Regions from separate parts of the Homo sapiens genome. Here region 2 is linked to region 1. Evidence: fine-mapped expression QTL. A gene starts in region 1. The other region holds a variant in brackets. All regions are shown on one strand. Distances are from middle to middle.

Region 1 (5,383 bases):
TTTTTTTTTTTTGAGAGTTTCACTCTTGTTGCCCAGGCTGGAGTGCAGTGGCACCATCTCGGCTCACTGCAACCTCCCCCTCCCAGGTTCAAGTGATTCTCCTGCCTCAGCATCCCGAATAGCTGGGATTACAGGTATGCACCACCAGGCCCGCCTAATTTTTTTATATTTAGTAGAGACGGGGTTTCATCATGTTGGCCAAGCTGGTCTCAAACTCCTGACCTCAGGTGATCCACCCGCCTCAGCCTCCCAAAGTGCTGGGACTACAGGCGTGAGCCACCGTGCCCGGCCTAAATATTTTTTTCTTTTAACACGTGTAATCAATATAAAAATTGCTAATGCAACATTTTACATTTTTTTGTAACAATTTTAATTTTTATTCTGTGTTCAGTAGCCACATAGGGCTAGTGGCTACTGTACTGAAAACATAGTTCAAGCATTGTTGAGTGGTATGAGTTCTTAAGGATTTACTTTGGATCTGGGCATTGATATAATTAGGAAGGTCAATTTAGCAGCAATGGGAATTAGATAAGCAAGTGTTTGACATTCTTGTGGGCTCTCTAAAGTCTTAGATCACTCCAGCCTTGTATGCTAACTTTGGAGACTGATAAAGGCTATTGGTGCCTAAAAGGCTGTGAAATGTATTTTTTAAAAAGCTGTGAAATATTTTAAGTGTACATCACATAATTTAGATTGTAAATTTGATACATCTGCACTATGAAAGTGTCAGAAACGCTAGTGCAAACTTTAATTATGAATAAAAAGACAAATCCAGAAAAAGAAGTGTGCATTTGTCACTCTTAAAAAAGAGTTGGGTGGGGAAAGGATCCAACTGATTTAACCTAATAGGGAAAGAAGAGACAAGTCCTACTCTCCCTGACTCTTGTATTTTGTTGTGGCATTTTAAGAAGGATCCAATTGTATGGATCCAATTAAAAGCAACCAGTGGTTGTGAAAAGGCTTGAAACTACATCTTGTGAACAATGGTTGAAAGTACTTTGAATATGGTTTCTTAAAATGAGTATCTGTAGCAGGGGTAGTTAGAAGGATATGCACGGGAGAGGGAGTGGGAAAGGGTGATAAGCTGTACTGATAAGTGCTTAAATGAATGTCACATACAAGAAGAAAAGAGCAAGAAACAAAGACAAAATAACTACTCATAGAAGAGAGTGCAAGTTGGCTGAATACAAGGAAAATGGCTTATAAAAATGCAATGGAAAAAGATGTCTTGTGAGGCAATTTTGCACTACAGAGGATGGGGACAATTCATGATGCCTAAGGCTCCTCTCAACACGAGAATTGATTTTATTGGTCTCAAATATTGAACAGAGAGGCAGTGTGGAGGTTGAACAGTTCACTGGCCTTGATGTTACAGGCAGGCCCTGTGTCTTAATCTTGGCTCAACCTTTAGGAGTTAGGTCACCTTTAGCAAGTCTCCTGGACTCTCTGGGTCTGCTGCTTCTCTAAAATCGAAATAATATACCCCACATTTACTTTTGGGATTACTGGAAGGCTTTGTAACCACATAAACACGTTTCTGTTTCCATGGGATAAGCCAATAAGGCCCCTTAACACAGCCCTCCTGTTTCTTTTTCCTCCTCCTCCCTTCCTACTCTATTTCGGGTTCTGTCTTCCCACACCCAGCTATTCCTAGTACCTTCCCTTACATGCACCTTATCTTACTGCTGCATTACAGAAAAGTCTAAGGATAAACACAAATAGTCTTTTTCCGCCCTAAGGTAGGGCAAAGGGTTAATAGAATCAAGAGGTAAAGTCTGTAAAAACCATTTTTCCACATTTTTTCATCCTGCAATCGCTGTCTATAAAATGAGCCAACTTGCTGAAGGGGACGCCAAGAAATCACAATTTCAGGACTGCCATGAAGAATGAGTATTCAACTCCTTATCAGAGACCTTTAACCCTTATACAATAATGTATCCATGCAGGTCACCCTACACTGCCTCTACTCTGAAGTCTGCAGCAGAATCACTATTTTTTTTTTAATCACTAATTTTTAAACTGTGGTCTTTACGGCTCAGATCTGGGAGTGGACATTGACCTTTCTTATTTAAACCATTGCCCACAGATAACACATAATTTCTAGCCGAATCCTTTAGTCCCAATATCCCCTCTTTTCACTGCCCTGACTTCCCTCTCAGGTGAGGTTCAGGAAGATGGTTATCTAGAGGGCACAGGTTCTGGGTTCAAATTACTTGGGTGCAAACATGAAATCCACTACTCTGAGGCTGGGCCTCAACTTATCTGCAAAACGAGGATGATTCGTATCTCAGAGAGTTGAAGATTAAGCAGCTTTAAGTAAACTTCTAAACACTTGATCCGGACACAATAAATGGGGCTACCAGAACTATCTTTCCAGCATTCCCACCTGCAAATGCCTTAGGCGTCTCTGAGAATTTGGTCTCTGAGACCTTCCAGAGCATCCATAACTTAAACCCTGCTCTGCTGTCGTTCAGGACGTCTCAATAGTAAATGAACCTGCTGGCTCCCAATCCAGCCAAACCAGGAGATAGGCTGAGGCTTCAGACTGCCTCGCAGATGCTCCATGGCACTTGACGGCAAGAGCTAAAAAGAGGTGATTTAAAACAAGATTTCCTCGGACTTAAAGCTTAAGTACCGGGTTGCGACCCTACTCTCCGCAGGACATAAGCGGAGGGGCGCGGCCCTAAGGCACACGCCGGAGGGGCGTGGTCATGGGCACCCGCCGGAGGGGCGTGGTCATGGGCACCCGCGCGCGCCCAGGGGCGTGTCCTTTTCAGCACCCACCGAGGCGCCAGCCCCCTGACGCGCTGCGTGGAATCCAAATCCCACGGCCGGTGTCGTTACTCTGCGCATGTGTAGCTGCTGGGGGCTGGCCGGAGGAAAGCAGAATTTCAGGGAAAGAACGATCGGGACGGGGAGGACGGGGAGGGCGGGGCAGAAGACGGAAGAGTTGAAATCAGCTGACTGGGTCTCGTGACAGCCTGGGCGGTGGCGACGCAGGCGTATTAGAGCGCGCTCGCTCAAAGCCTGAGCGAAGATGGCGGCCTCCAGAGTGAAACTCTGAGAGGCAGAGGGAGGAGGCGGAGGGGGCGGGGAGGCAGCGCCGCGGCGGCACCAGGAACCCGCGGCAGCGGAGCTGCAGGGCCCCGGCGGGGGAAAGGGGAAGTGGTGAGGGTGAGGAGGCCGGAGGGCGCCTCATCCCACTCTGGAAGCTGAGCCGGCGGCGGGAGGAGCTAGGGCTGGAGCCTCTCCAGCCTCCCGCGAAGGTAAAGCCGACTCCGGGCACTGGGCTCTGGGGCTCTGCCTTACTCCCTTCCCACGCCGTGGGGACTTTGTGGGGCTCAGGGCAGGGAAAACGGGGTGGTCTTGGCTGCTGCAGCCTGCAGCTGCTAAGGAAGCAGATTACCCTTCCCCCAGGCTGCTGGTCTGGTTCCTTTCGTTGGACGCCCCCCCGGCTTTGAGTGACATTAGCTCAGGGCGCTGCCCTGTCCAGCCCCACCCCTTTTTTTTGCTTGTTTTATACCTAGTACGCTCCTCCACTCGCCTTAACATATCCTTACCCCACAGGCTCTTCATTCCCTTGTGGGTTCCGCCCTCGGGATTCCCTTCCAGTCTCCTAGTCTGAGCACCCTTCCTGCTGGATGCCGGCAACTCTTGTTTCCTTGGGTCAGCGACCCTCCTTCCGAACAAGTCCTGCAGACTGACTTTCTTTGCTTTGTTTCGTTTTGTTAGGAAATGAGCATCCGCGTCGTCTGTTCTCCAGTACTTTTTCTAAAATCATTTTCTCCCCTAAGGCTTTTCCTTCCTGCAAGGCAGCTTATTCACGTGGCCTTTCCTCCGCTGCTGTGATTTTATCTTTGAATGTGGCCTTTGGAGTGGGTAAAGTAGGACTTAGACGCTCAGTGAAGTGGCTGTTAATCACTTGATACTTAACTATGTTTAAGAGTGCCTTCCCTTAAATTTTCTCCTTTTGTAGCGTGTTCCGTTAACCACGTTTGTCTTAAGATTGTTTCCTGTGTCCGTTGCTTAGAGGGGGGAAAAAAGTAAAGATTTCACCCTAATGTGGCGGTGGTCTCCCAAAGTAATTATTTCTCATTTTCCCTCTGCTTTTCCCTTTTACGTTATTCTGATTTCCCTCAAAAAGGAGGTTCTGTACCTGATGCTGTTGCGTCCTCTATGAAGGGCTTTATAGTGTACAGTTATGTTGAGCCTTTTGTAATACAGTGTCTTGGGGAAAAAAGTAGAAGTTCAGAACCTGCCCCCAGTAATTCTTTCTTACTATATTTTCTTTCTCAGTTTATGGACTTGATAGGTTTCTAGGTTTGAAACTACTGCCTGCAGGGAAAATTACAGTGATAAGGTTTTATAATATATTACCAGTACTTTGAGTTTATGGGAGTATGAAACAGAATTTGCCTTAAAAAAATAAATTTATAGAAACCACTTGTCAGAAATTCGGTATCCAGAACACAGTTCTTTGATTTTTGGAAAGTACTTTATTGGCTTATCTATCATATAACGTAAAACCTTGTTCACATTTTGTGTAATGTGAAACGCTTTTTAAGCTACTATATCTCAGACTTGGCTTGTGCTGTTAGTATCACAATGCATTCAGGCAACACACGTCCTTGTGTAGAAATTATTACATTATACTCCTTGTTTGAAAACAGGAAGTAGAACATATTAAGGGAGGAAAAGAGGAGTCAGAGGATTATTAAGAAATAAGAATGTAAAGAACCTTAAGGCTAGAGTTCAGTTCATGGAAAATATCAGCATTTGTATTCCACTGAGAGGCAATGAATATTCCTCTTTTTCTAAAGTGGTAGTAATAAATAGTCTAAAATATATTAATGTTATATATTGTTAACAAGCTTAGTTGTAAACAAAATACTTAAGCTAAAAAATAAAATATTAATAAGTGAATGAATTGTTTGGAATAATTTAACTTTATCCACAAATAAATAGAAGATGGTTGCCTTGCCCAGGTGGACTGTAACAATACTGGCTTTATTAAATTTGTTAAAAGGTTGATAGTGGAGTCCGGTTCTCAATAGGTCCCAAATTAGGGTTGAAATTGAAAAGATGTGTTTTAACTAATTTGGCTTCATTCCTCAACCAGTTCTGTTTACACAGGTGAATATGAGGTTTCTGCTACACATACCTTTCCCCTGCTTCTGATTGAGGTACTTTAAATTAGTAATTGAAACAAGGCTGTGCAGATAAACTGCAGCACAAATTTGGTTGCTACAAATAGGTTTTGGCCTAAATGTTCACTGTAAAACATGGCAGTAGTTAAAGGGGAGTTATTAATATTTTGAAAGAGTTCCTTGAGTCAGTGTTTCTCAACTTTATTAGACCCAATAAAGGCTCCCTTTTTATAAAA
Region 2 (5,383 bases), 48 kb after region 1:
TCTTTATTATAAATTAGTTTTAAACTTGTTACAGAAATAATCCTCAATAATAAAAGTTTTAATTTCATAGTGAAGTTGTAGAGCAAATAAATCTGTTACTGCATTATTTGTTTATTTTACTTACTTAAAAGTTAGCATTCTATCTGTTGCTCTTTTTTGGAAGGATAATGTTGACAGTGTTGAAGTCTTGAGATACTGAGCTTGTATAGAAATCTATTGATGGAGTTAGTTCATACCAAAATGATACCAAGTAAGAAAGGCAACAAAAAGTTCTTGATAAAGCATATTTGTAATTGAGCTCTAGAGATTGGAGCATGATCTTGTCGAAGATACTGCTTCTTTAAGATAGTTGCTTTATGCTTCTATATTTTTTAAAAGGTTGTAGCTATGAATGTCTGTTGCATACTATGATGATTACAATGACATCAGTCTAAATGGCTTTTGAATTCTTGTATTTTGTTGTCATAGAAGCAATTTGAATACAATTGAAGAAAGTCTCCTTTTACCAAAAAATTCATTTATTGTGCATAAGTATAGCACACAATTAATCACAGAATTAGTATGCCCTTAAGTAGCTGTAAATATATATAGGCATTGAACTGAATGGAACATCAAAGTTTATTTGCATTTTTAGTGTGCATATACAGCCAAAGGCTAATTTTCTCCCTTTAGCTAATGGGTTCTTTGCTCAATGTTAGCTTCCAAAGTGCCCATCTTTTACAGAGCTTGCGATAGCCAAGCCTCTCCTTTTTGTTGGCAGCTATACACAGAGGGAGTGAACCTAGTTTTAATATTAAGTTTAGCAAAGCATAGTTTATGAGGTAAATTTGTCTGGAAACATCTCAACCTTATTCCAAAGGTTTAAAAATTACCTGTGCTACTACTCACCTATTTTTTTTTGGGTGATTAGAAGATGCATTTTAAAAACTTCTATTACATACTGAATGTTTTTTTCATTTAAATATGTAAAATTAGTTTTTTAAAGTTTGGATAGCTTGTCCTGGATTGCCACCTTAGGGATCATCTTACCCTTTTTCCAAAGGAAGGTGATAAAGAAATTGCTACAAAAATGCAGGAGCTTGCCCTAAGTGAAGGTGCCTTACCTCGACACTTGCATACTGCGATGTTTACAATAAGCTCAGATCAAAGGATGCTTACAAATAGGTAGGTGATTTAATTCAATTTGCTGCAATTTAACTTCCTGTCTAGAGAATTGATTCAGATGTTACATAAAACTAAATGTGTTTGTATTACACAAATAATACATTTTCTTTTGATCCACCTAGTTCTTTTCCTTTCCTTACAGAAGGATTTTGCCCAAGTGATCACTGTCCCTGCCTATGGAAAACCTGGAGGGAAACACTGTTTACTTTTTTTCCCCGACCTATTATCAGGCCCTGACACCATAGTCATGGGACCAATATGGAAAAGGGTACTTAAAAGCTTATGGAACTAGAACCACATGCTCAGGTCTTTTCTCCTTATATCCCTGTGACCATCTTGCATGCACATGACCCCATGGGAAAACCTCACATAGTTGATTTTTAAATATCTTTGGTCAAATACTCTACTTTAAAAACCACAGAAAACCTTACATATCCAGCCTAAGCTAGACTTAACCTAAATCTCTTGTAATTAAATGATTCCCTTTTTCCTGATAGTCATTCAAATATAAACACATAAATTTATTCACTTATTCCACACTACATGAATTCCAGCCCTTTTTAACCCTCTTTGTGGTTTCTAACATGTGACCCTTTCAGCTATCTTAAGCATACTATATTATGACTCATATTAGTAAAAACAGTATCATAAATAGTTTTAATTTTATTTTTTGACTTTTTAAATAATAGCATAAGTTGCTGAGTTAAACGTTTAGTTTGTTACAATACTGTACATTTTCTTTGTCATCTATGTGCAGTTATTATACATCATGGTATGCTGCCTTGCCAGGGATTTTTTTTTTACTGTTTATACTATTAGAAGAAACTACCTCCCTCACTTGTGTTAAGAACAAAACTAGTCTTAGAGGATAAAGATAATAAGGATGTTTTCCTAGTATTGTCTTATTAGCAGTGCTAGACACCATCTTTCATTAGAGACTATTGATAGCTTATTCCATTAACCCCTCCCCATGTTAAATGCTTGCTTGTTGTGTTTCTCTTCAGTATAGTTAACCAGTTAAATTCCCTACTGTGATCAATTAGTGTATTAGGGAAGCATTTTAATTTGGAGAAAATTCCAAAAGGTTAGTAATATTTGAATTACACTGTTAAAGATCTGTCAATGTATAATAGAAATATCACTCTATTTGCATTGCTTTATCTTTTACAAATTGCTGTTATAAAATGTTATCTCTTTTGTCCCTAACTAAAGCCTTTTTAGGAGTCACTGATATGATAACCTACCAAATGCCAGTGAAGGAAATTACAAGTTTAATTACTTCAATATGTTAGCTTTCAAATTGGCACAGGAATGAACAGTTTTAGTGGCGTTCACTTTCTGGTGACAAAGTATATTTTGGGTTTTGCAGTTAAATTTTGTTCTTCAGTAATGTAACATATATAAAACATATGTTTGTGGGTGGTTATTTGGATATTTCCCTCATAGGTTTCATGACCATTCTTATAGCTATGGTAATTGAATCCCCACCAAAGCACAGAAGGGTCACTGGTGGGTAAAATAGGGTTTCTACTTATGAGGAGCTTTCAGTTAAGGTGACAGGTGTTGAATGGGGATTAAAATTAGTAAATGACTAAACCATAGATTGAACTTGGATCTTAGATTTTTACTTTGAATTAAAATATACTTTTATAGCTTTTAAGTGAGATGAGTTGAATAATTTGCTATAAGTGGTTTAGGTCTTTGCCCAAACTCTAGAAGTGAAAATAATTTTCTCTCTGATCTTGCCAAAACGGTTATATTAGAACAGTTGTTGACTTCTGCTTGTTCAGAATTCCAAAAAATGCCAGGATGCCATTGTCACTATATTAGTAGGACTGGTTAAACAAATTAATTGTGTCATCAA[A/G]TCTAATTGTTTTTGTTGTTTTTTTTCTTCCTTTAAGTGGGATAAAAACCTACTTTTTTCCTGTTCGGGTTTATTGAAAATGAGTGTATGTTTATTAGGAAAACATTTTAATTTTTAGAAAATTCCAAAATATTAGTAATATTTGAATTATAACTCTCCACATTAAATTTTTTAATAACTATTTTTAACATCGGAATGATTTTTTTACTGTAGCCGTATTTTTTATAATTATGTGATATTTTGTTCTTAAAAATTCCTTTCTGTTCTAGCTGAGATAAAGCAGCAAACCTTTCTCAACGTCTGCTTTTTTCAGACAGCTAAGTAGACATTTAGTGGGACTCTGGACAGCTGATAATGCAACTGCAACAAACTTGTTGAAACGCATTTTGGTAAGTCAGTTGAGAAATTAGGTTATATACTGCCTAATAAAATTTAATTGAACAAGTTATCTGTACTGTTAAAAGGGGATGGTTTGTTTTTTATTGAAAAGTTATTTATCATAGGAGTTACCGTAAAGTTTTACCCTCAATAGCTAAGCCACAGTATTAATTTATTTGGGTTTTTAAGGCTAAATTTTCTTTTTCACATTGTTTTGAAAATGGATTTTGTGTTTTTAGCCGCCAGGCTTGCTGGCATACTTGGAAAGCTCAGATCTCGTACCTGAGAAGGATGCTGATCGGATGCATGTTAGAGACAATGTGAAAATAGCAATGGTAAATATGACTGTCCCAAGTGTGCCTTTTTTAGGAGTAAGGGTACTGTTATATATATGTCTTTTTTTGAAACACGTTAAAAATTTTAGAAACAAAGAATTCATTGCATTGAATAGTATACTTAACTATTGATATCTTTATTGAGGTAAAATTTACATCCCATAATATTCATCTTTTTAAGGTATACAATTAAATAATTTGTGGTATATTTACAGAGTTGTGCAGCTATCACCACAAATTAATGTTATGAATAGTGGTCATTTTATTCTGTGTTTTGTTTCTCTAATTCAACTTATTGGTACGTTCTGGAGTACCAGTAAGTGTGTAAATATGGTATTTTGCACATATGAGATTGATAAATGTTGTTGGTAAAAACGGCCAACCATGAAAAAAGTTATAGGTAGGGTTTTTTTCCTTACAAGATCTATGTTAATTATAAGGTTGGGCCATCCATGGAAAAATTAAACATCTTTATGATACACTACTATAATAATTTCTTACGTGTATTCTTTTTCTGTCATCACTCCTTCTCTGTCTGCACCCAGCTCCCACTTGCATCTTGCCACCCCTCATAAAAGAATCATCTTGAAACCTAAGTAGAAAAGTTAGTTTCTTGGATAAAAAGTATAATTGTAGAAGTTTTCAGTTTGTTTCTTCACTGAACCATAACATCCAGCATTAACCTTATAAAATAGATAGAATGACTCAGCTTTACATAGAGTTTTAAAATAAATTTGCAAACAGGCATGTAATGGATTCCAACATTATTTTACAGGATCAGTATGGAAAATTTAATAAAGTTCCAGAGTGGCAAAGACTAGCTGGAAAAGCTGCTAAAGAAGTTGAAAAATTTGCCAAAGAAAAAGTGGATCTTGTATTGATGCACTGGAGGGATAGGATGGGCATTGCTCAAAAAGAGGTAAAAATAAAATTTGCTTCCAAATTCCTGGCACTTCTGTGTGTCCTAGTCTACTTTAGTTCCTGCTGTTCACAGAGATGGTATCGATACATTTCTTGCTGAATACCTGAAGCTTAAAAATGAATGGTACCTAATTTCTTTCTTTTTTATTTTATTTATTTATTTATTTTGAGACAGAGCCTTGCTCTGTTGCACAGGCTGGAGTGCAGTGGAGCGATCTCGTCTCACTGCAAGCTCCGCCTCCTGGGTTCACGCCATTCTCCTGCCTCAGCCTCCCGAGTAGCTGGGACTACAGGCACCCGCCACCACGCCCGGCTAATTTTTTGTATTTTTAGTAGAGATGGGGTTTCACCGTGTTAGCCAGGATGGTCTCAATCTCCTGACCTCGTGATCCGCCTGCCTCAGCCTCCCAAAGTGCTGGGATTACAGGCGTGAGCCACCGCACCCGGCCGAATGGTACCTAATTTCTAATTCATATTTTTGTATACATTTTCCTTAGTTCATAGTTTTATGAGTTGATGATTAGGTTTTTATTTTGGTATTTAATATAGAATTCCACTCTTAATTTTTCTTCCATTCCAGTTTTTGTTCTTTTTTATTCATATGTATTTATTTTCTTCCCTTCTTCTCTGGACTTTGTTTTGCACCTATAAAAATAAAGGTGCTCTTCCTGTTAGCCTTTTTATTCAGAACTAGCCAGACAAGTGTTTTGGAGATTAAGAT

Evidence for each region. PIP is the estimated chance that this variant, and not a neighbour inherited with it, causes the effect.
Region 2: its variant is fine-mapped to the expression of DNAJC13 in whole blood (TOPMed, PIP 0.96).

Annotation. Positions count from the first base shown.
Region 1 is chr3:132,414,495-132,419,877 of GRCh38, forward strand. DNAJC13 (DnaJ heat shock protein family (Hsp40) member C13) reads left to right here and starts at 3,008. Exons shown (of 56, transcript NM_015268.4): 1 at 3,008-3,266. RefSeq lists silencers at 2,698-2,797, 3,078-3,217 and enhancers at 3,248-3,397, 3,337-3,872.
Region 2 is chr3:132,462,654-132,468,036 of GRCh38, forward strand. DNAJC13 (DnaJ heat shock protein family (Hsp40) member C13) reads left to right here. Exons shown (of 56, transcript NM_015268.4): 17 at 1,043-1,164; 18 at 3,342-3,417; 19 at 3,646-3,741; 20 at 4,517-4,660. Among named protein-coding and RNA genes, the nearest start is that of DNAJC13, 48 kb to the left of the region's middle. The variant A/G (reference allele first, on the strand shown) is at 3,029.